Linked DNA regions of Homo sapiens. The protein of the gene in region 2 interacts with the protein of the main gene of each other region in a pairwise test. Each region holds a gene or a part of one and is shown on either strand. Other genes may lie near its edges. The genes, in order: RRAS2 and PAWR.

Region 1 (3,822 bases), on a different chromosome or scaffold from region 2:
AGAGAGGAGGTGGCAAGTGGGGAAGTGGGATTGATAGTTGATTTGGGACCTGTGATCTGGTCTCTGCAAAAAGGAGCCTTTTTGGAGAGACAGGAACCCGACCACCTGGATGCAGTCTCAGCTCTACCACTTGCTGCATGTGTAATTTTAGGCAGGTTACTTAACTTCTCTGTACCTTAGTTTTCCCCATCTGTAAACTGGGGAAATATGGTGGACCACATATAGCTGTGAAATTAAATGAGTTAACATGTCAAGGGCTTAGAACAGTGTCTAGTACAGTCTGTAGTAAAGCTGCATACATTTTTATATTAATTTTAGATTATGGAGCTAAAGCGATTTTTTTATATTTACACTTAATAGGGTAGCTATTCATTGCCTGACTCCTGGAATGTTAAAATTCATTCCACCATGATTGTTTAGCAGTAGTAACTGGAGGGAGAGAACACAGCAGACTAATCATTTTAATAAGCAGAAGTCAGTTCTCTTGGTAGGAGATTAGAATGGCACAAATTGGACTTACTTTTTTAAGACTCCTGAAACACCAGACTGTTTTTACAATTTTCAGTATATATATTTTCTACTATGTGATTTTGAGCAGAAAAAAATATAAAATTGGGAACGGAGAATTTAAAAACAATGCCTTTTACCCTAACTTTCTTTGACTTAGATTTAGTTGTTACCTTCTGTTCATATGAAGAGTTGCAAAATTAGGGAACTAAGATAATTAAATTGAGATACCTTTTCCTTTTTAAAAATAAATATAACAAATCATAAAGTAGCCATGATAAAATGTAAAGTATTATGTTATTTAATGAATATGTGTGTGTACATTACCTCCTCCTTTCTGTTGCTCATATTTCTTTGAAAAATGTGTAAAGTTCTGTTGGTAGGTAGAACACCTAAATGTTAAGTAAACTCTAGGTAGGAAATGACTTCAGGATGGTACAGAGTGGTTAGGAGAGACTGCTGGGTGTGTGGGGTCTATGTCTCTCTACCCAGGTGACTTTGAGTAGTTTCTTAATCTGCCTTTATCTCGACTGAGCTTCTCTTTCTTCCCCATGAAATGTTGGGTTTGGTTGAACAAATTTCTGCACTTTTGAAATTCTAGGAGTGTTTTTTTTTTTTTATTCATTTAACTAGCTGTGTGTTTAGTCAAGTTTCTTAGGTTCTCTAAACCCAAGTTTCACCATTTGAGAAGGGAGAATAACATTAAATAATAGTACCCTTAGGGTTTTTGGAGTAAATAAAATAATGCAGGTAAATCATCCAGCACCGTGCCATCTACAGAGTAAGCAAATAAGAATTGTTGGCTGGGCGTGGTGGCTCACACCTGTAATCCCAGCATTTTGGGAGGCCAAGGTGGGTGGATCACTTGAGGTCAGGAGTTTGAGACCAGTCTGGCCAACATGGTGAAACCCCACCTCTACTAAAAATACAAAAATTAGCCGGGCGTGTTGGTGCGTGCTTGTAATCCCAGTTACTCGGGAGGCTGAGTCAAGAGAATCACTTGAACCTGGGAGGTGGAGGTCGCAGTGAGTCAAGGTTGCGCCACTGCACTCCAGCCTGGGCAGCAGAGTGAGACTCTTGTCTCAAAAAAAAAAAAAAAAAAAAAGAAATTGTTACTTGGTTTTATTTGCTGCTGTTAGTTCTGTATCTTGGTGTTCCTCCAAAACAAAATTTGTAATTTTTTCATTTTTCTTTGACACATAATCTGGTCTATTACTTTAAGTCTTCATTGCCCTCTCCTTCCTGGCTCAACCCTATACTCCCCTCCTTACTTCTGTGTGGTATTCAGGTGATGAATGTGGATTCCGTTTTGAGTTGGAGAAATTTCTTTTTGTCAGTTTGGATTTAATTTTAAGAAATAATGAGGTAAGCATTTAATTTTGGGGTTAGTGCTTTATCTGGTAACTCTGAGAAAAGGCCATATATGTTTTAAAAATTTACAGGGAGGTTTATATATTTTTTTTAGCATATTAACTTTTTATTCAACAATTTGCCAGATTTTGAGGTAGGTAGGGGTTAGCTGATTTCTCACGTCTTGAATTTCAGTCAGTCCTATGACCTGTTAGTCTGGACCCAGCATTGCTTTTTAAAAGTTTGTCTTTTGCTGAGTACTTTTTCATTGCTTTTTCCTGGGGCAGAGAGCCGAGAAGAGATTTCAGGAGATTTGTGTTAATAGTTAATTGATCCACATGTGAAGGTTGTGAGTTTAAATTCCCAATTTGCTGTTCCATTGCTACATCTCGAAGATTTTTCCTGCAATTAGAAACTACTTAAACTGTTAACTTTTATCTATTATTTTGAAACTAGACATTTTTAGTGTTTAAACTTTTTTAACATTAATGTACAAATGAATTGTTAGCATTGAGAAATAAGACACCTGCCCCCAAAGTGGTACCATACTAAAGGTTTTCTTGTTTGGGGAACAGTTGAAATGGTCCTGCAGGCAATTCCTAGATAAAATTTCTGTACACCCAAGGAAGAACATTTTCTTATAGAGGATGACTGCCTTTGGAGAAGAAGGAAATTTTAACCTGCAGTTTCTTAACTTACGTCTTATTCTTGTTTTGTTCATTCTCTTTCTCTTTGTGTCTGTCTCTGTGTGTGTGTGTTTGTGTGCATGCGTACCCCTGTTTTGGGATAAGGAAGTTGTAGGAATTGAGTGGGGACACTTTTTTTTTTTTTTTGAGACGAAGTTTCGCTCTTGTTCAGGCTAGAGTGCAGTGGTGCAATGGCGTGATCTTGGCTATCTGCAGCCTCCACATCCTAGGTTCAAGCGATTCTCCAGCCTCAGCCTCCCAAGTAGCTGGGATTATAGACAGGCATGTGCCACAACACTCAGCTAATTTTGTATTTTTAGTAGAGGTGGAGTTTCACCATGTTGGCCAGGGTGGTCATGAACTCCTGACCTCAGGTGATCCACCCGCCTGGGCCTGCACCATGCCTGGCCGAGTGGGAGCACTTTTGTTGAGTAGGTCAAGAATACTGCTTTCCCTTGGTAGATAACAGGCTACTGCTTACCGGGATGGGATTTTAATTCATCTGATTGCTGAAATATCATGGTCTTTCCTAAGCTTTGAATAAAAATAGTCTGCTCCATTCAGTTAGGAAAATAAATTGATAACTTTAAATTGGGGGAGTAGAGTGGGAAGAGACTTTCTTAAAGCTATTAAAAAAAATTTTAGCTGGGCACGGTGGCTCATGCCTGTAATCCCAGCACTTTGAGAGGCTGAGGCGGGCGGATCACTTGAAGTCAGGAGTTTGAGACCAGCGTGGCCAACATGGTGAAACCCTGTCTCTACTAAAAATACAAAAATTAGCTGGGTGTGGTGGCGGGCGCCTGCAATCCCAGCTACTACTCAGGAGCTGAGGCAGGAGAACTGCTTGAACCTGGGAGTCGGAGGGTTGTAGTGGGCGGAGATCATGCCACTGCACTCCAGCCTGGGCAACACAGCAAGACTATATCTCAAAAAAAAAAAATGTCTCTCTCTCTCTCTCTCCCTCTCTCTCTCTCTCTCTCTCTCTATATATATATATTTTAAAAGTTTCTTTTTCAAATTAAAGTTGGTCTTTAAAATTGAAACAGATTTTGTGATGCCACTTGACACGCCTTTTTTTCTGGTTGGGGAAAATGGTCTTTAGGATATTAATTCCACCGTGCCTTCCTTAATGAAAAGTGATAATGAGTAAAGGATTTTCACTTTGCGTGTAGACAGTATGGAGTTAATAGTCATGAATTTTGTTGAAAGGCCTTGATCTTGAATTACTTTGGGCAGAGCTGCTGAGTCTGTTTGAGATTGAAACTTAAACTTGTAGTTG
Region 2 (3,822 bases):
CTTTAAAAGCATATGATCCAGCTCTTTTTTCCCTGTATTAATCCTTGTCCCAAACACACAACCATCTGGTTAAAACAAATTCACCATAAGTTTTAGTTACAAGAAACATTATTTCAAGACAGACTCTTTACTGTTAAAAAAGCAGACATTTATAGATTTATTCTTGCAGTTTAAAATAATAAATCTTGATGTAATCAATTTGAATCACTTGAACCCGGGGGGTGGAGGTTGCAGTGAGCTGAGATCGCGCCACTGAACTCCAGCCTGGGCAACAGAGAGAGACTCCTTCTCAAAAAATAATAATAATAATAATAAAGAGTACCAATTTTAGGGTTTTTTTTTTTTTTTTTTGAGACAGAGTCTTACTCTTGCTGCCCAGGCTGGAGTGCAGCAGCGCAATCTTGGCTCACTGCAACCTCCGCCTCCTGGGATCAAGCAATTCTCCTGCCTCAACCTTCTGAGTAGCTGAGATTACAGGTGCCCACCACCATGCCCAGCTAATTTTTCATATTTTTAGTAGAGTCGGGGTTTTACCATGTTGGCCAGGCTGGTCTCGAACTCCTGACTTCACGTGATCCGCCCTCCTCGGCCTCCCAAAGTGCTGAGATTACAGGTGTGAGCCACAGCGCCTGGCCAATTTTAGATATTTCTTGAGGCAACTCTGTGCCAGTGCCCTTACATATGGTAGTGACAAAGCGCCTGTCACCCTCAGATTTTAACAAAACAGAGAACAAATCCATAAATCAGTCTATCTCCAAAAGAATAAAATTAAGTGAGCTAAACTGATAACTGCCCAAAGGAAATCAGTTTTTGGAAGAAAATGATACCTCTTACTAATTATTATTTCACTAACAAAAGAACAAAGTGAATAATGCAATTAATAATTTCTTCATATTTATATATTTTCATCCAATTGCCAAAAAAAACCCCTCCAAACCTGAAATATGGTGAAATACTTACTCTATTTAATAAATCAATTTCTTCTTTGAGTTTTCCAATCATTTCCTCTTTATCTTGCATCAGTCTCACAAGTCTTAGGTTTTCTTGTCTTTCTCTTACTACTTCCTGGTAGATACAATTAAAAACCAGTAATTAGGAAGTAATTGTTTATTTATAATCTTCCTAAGTGGCATATATCTCCCCAATTTGGTAAAATATCTTACATACATGAAGATTTCCAATGAATCCCTTAAGACATTTGGTGAAGGAACAAAGATCCCACCACAAAAGGAATCAGAGAATGCACAGGAGATATTAGGATGCTCCTGAGTAAAGCTATGTTTATACAAGTCTTTAACAAAACTAATGTAATAGACTCAATGATTTAACCTCGTGTGTGTGTGTGTGTGTGTGTGTGTGTATGTATGTATGGCAGTGTTTCACTCTTGTCACCCAGGCTGGAGTGCAATGGCACCTTGGCTCACTGCAACCTCCACCTCCTGGGTTCAAGCGATTCTCCTGCCTCAGCCTCCCAAGTAGCTGGAATTACAGGTGCATGCCACCATGCCTGGGTAATTTTCATATTTTTAGTACAGATGGGGCTTTGCCATGTTGCCCAGGCTGGTCTCGAACTCCTGACCTCAAGTGATCTGCCCGCCTCAGCCTACCAAAGTGCTGGGATTACAAGCGTGAGCCACTGTGCCCGGCCTGTGATTTAACTTATTTAGCTTATCACCACTATAAGTTATGAACTACCTTATTTTTTAATGGGTATCTTGTTTGAAATAATTCAAAATTAATTTTTCTTAAAAATACAAAGTTTAAAGGAGATGGCCCAATAGAAACTCTAAACAGAAAAACAATGGTCCTCAGTTTTACTTCTGGCTCTGCCAGTTAACTGATAATGGATAAAAAGAAGGAACTAAAATAGATTACTGATTTTTAATTTTTTTTTTCTTTAAACAATGCAACATCTTTTTCAAAGACATCTTATTTAGAATCCAGGGCACTGGGCTTGGTCAGCCACCTTGGGGGCAAAAGGGAAGCAGAGCTCAAAAGGCCTTGCCCAGAACTTGGCTTCTTTCTTACTAAACCTCCTACAGAGCAATCAACCATCCATATCCCTTAGCTGCTGCCAACTACTAGCAATTCAATCCAAACTCTTGTGGAACTCACGAAGCCTTTCTGGGCAACTATCTTCAAAACTATTAGATTACATATTGTCTAAACTTTTTAATTTAAAATTATGAAATAATAGGCTGGGCACAGTGGCTCACGCCTGTAATTCCAGCACTTTAGGAAGCCGAGGCGGGTGGATCACCTGAGGTTAGGAATTCAAGACCAGCCTGACCAACATGGTGAAACCCCTTCTCTACTAAAAATACAAAAAAAGAATTAGCCGGGCTTGGTGGTGCATGCCTGTAATCCCAGTTACTTGGAAGGCTGAGGCAGAAGAAACACTTGAACCTGGGAAGTGGAGGTTGCAGTGAGCCGATACTGAGCCATTGTACTCCAGCTTAGGCAACAAGAGCGAAACTCTGTCTCAAAACTAAATAAATAAATAAAAATAAATAAAACTATGAAATAATAATTCCAAGAAGAAACTGTTGTTAAAGCTTAGAAATGTGACCTCAAAAAATCATAAATGTTATAAAATAGAAACAAGTTTTAAAAATGAAATTTCTTTACATAACATATATAAATTAGATCTTTAATAATATAGAGAATAATCTCAAGTAAAACAAAACACATTTTCAACAATTACAAAAGTATTCAACACCATTGCTAATTTTAGGGGTTGAATGTCTATGGCACAAACCTGAGACCCTATGGTTAATAAATTTATGCCAAGAGTCATCTGACTTGCACTGAAAGACACTTTTAAACAGGCATATTCTTAGACAAAATTGTTTCAAACACCAAAGATGGACCTAACTCAGATTTACTCCTGTAATTTGTAAAGTTACAAATGAAAATCTATTCAGACAATATAATAAATACACAGTAGTATATATTTGCCAGCTCAGACTTCTAACCACTTCAAAAACAAGGGCTTTTAATATACTAAAGGTAACAGTTGGCAGAAAAGCGCACATATTAAATATTAAGGAATATTATTTCCTTTCTCACTCAGTTGCTATGAAACAAAAGAATTCTAATGGTATATTAATTTTATCAATCTTAAATAACTTATAATCCATACCTTTTCAAGATCTTCAATTTTCTTTTCCAGTGTGCTACTTGAAACCAGAGTACCTGAAACATTTGCATCCCTGTTATATCTAGGGAACCCACTTCTATCTGTTCGAGAATATCTACTTGAGACATCTTCTTCAGAGACACTGGTTGTGCTGTGGAAATATAAACATTTTATTAAAATCCCTAGTATTCAGCAAGAAAAATGCCAAGAATATTTTCTATTGAGCTTAAAAAAATTAACATTCCCCAAGGACATATGGTTATAGTAGCAACTTATTTGTAACTGTAGAAGTTAATCATTATTCCCACACAATGAAAAAAATGTAAAAGTACCATTAATTCTTTCGACCAATATCTACTGAATAGGTGTTAAGTAACGAACACTGTTCTGGATACTGAAGACGTAACAGCAAACACAAACATGGACTCTGCCCTTCATAGAGCTTTTGGTTAAAAGGGAATATAACTAATAATAAAGCAAGATGATCAGTAAAATAAGGTCAGTGATGGATACTATGAGAACTACGATAGGACAGATCTCCCAGATTATCTTTTTTTTTTTTTTTTTTGAGATGGGGTCTCACTCTTGTCACCCAGACTGGAGTGCAGTGGTGCAATCACAGCTCACTGTGGCTTCGGCTTCCTGGGCTCAAGAGATCCTCCCACCTCAGCTTCCTGAGTAGC

Evidence for each region.
Region 1: the proteins of PAWR (region 2) and RRAS2 interact in a two-hybrid assay, tested with the Homo sapiens proteins (one large-scale study listed by IntAct).

Annotation. Positions count from the first base shown.
Region 1 is NC_000011.10:14,352,463-14,356,284, reverse strand, and holds part of RRAS2 (ras-related protein R-Ras2), read left to right. Parts: intron 1-3,822. UniProt on the Homo sapiens protein: GTP-binding protein with GTPase activity, involved in the regulation of MAPK signaling pathway and thereby controlling multiple cellular processes. Regulates craniofacial development.
Region 2 is NC_000012.12:79,593,369-79,597,190, forward strand, and holds part of PAWR (PRKC apoptosis WT1 regulator protein), read right to left. Parts: intron 3,291-3,822; coding exon 3,143-3,290; intron 1,066-3,142; coding exon 961-1,065; intron 1-960. UniProt on the Homo sapiens protein: Pro-apoptotic protein capable of selectively inducing apoptosis in cancer cells, sensitizing the cells to diverse apoptotic stimuli and causing regression of tumors in animal models.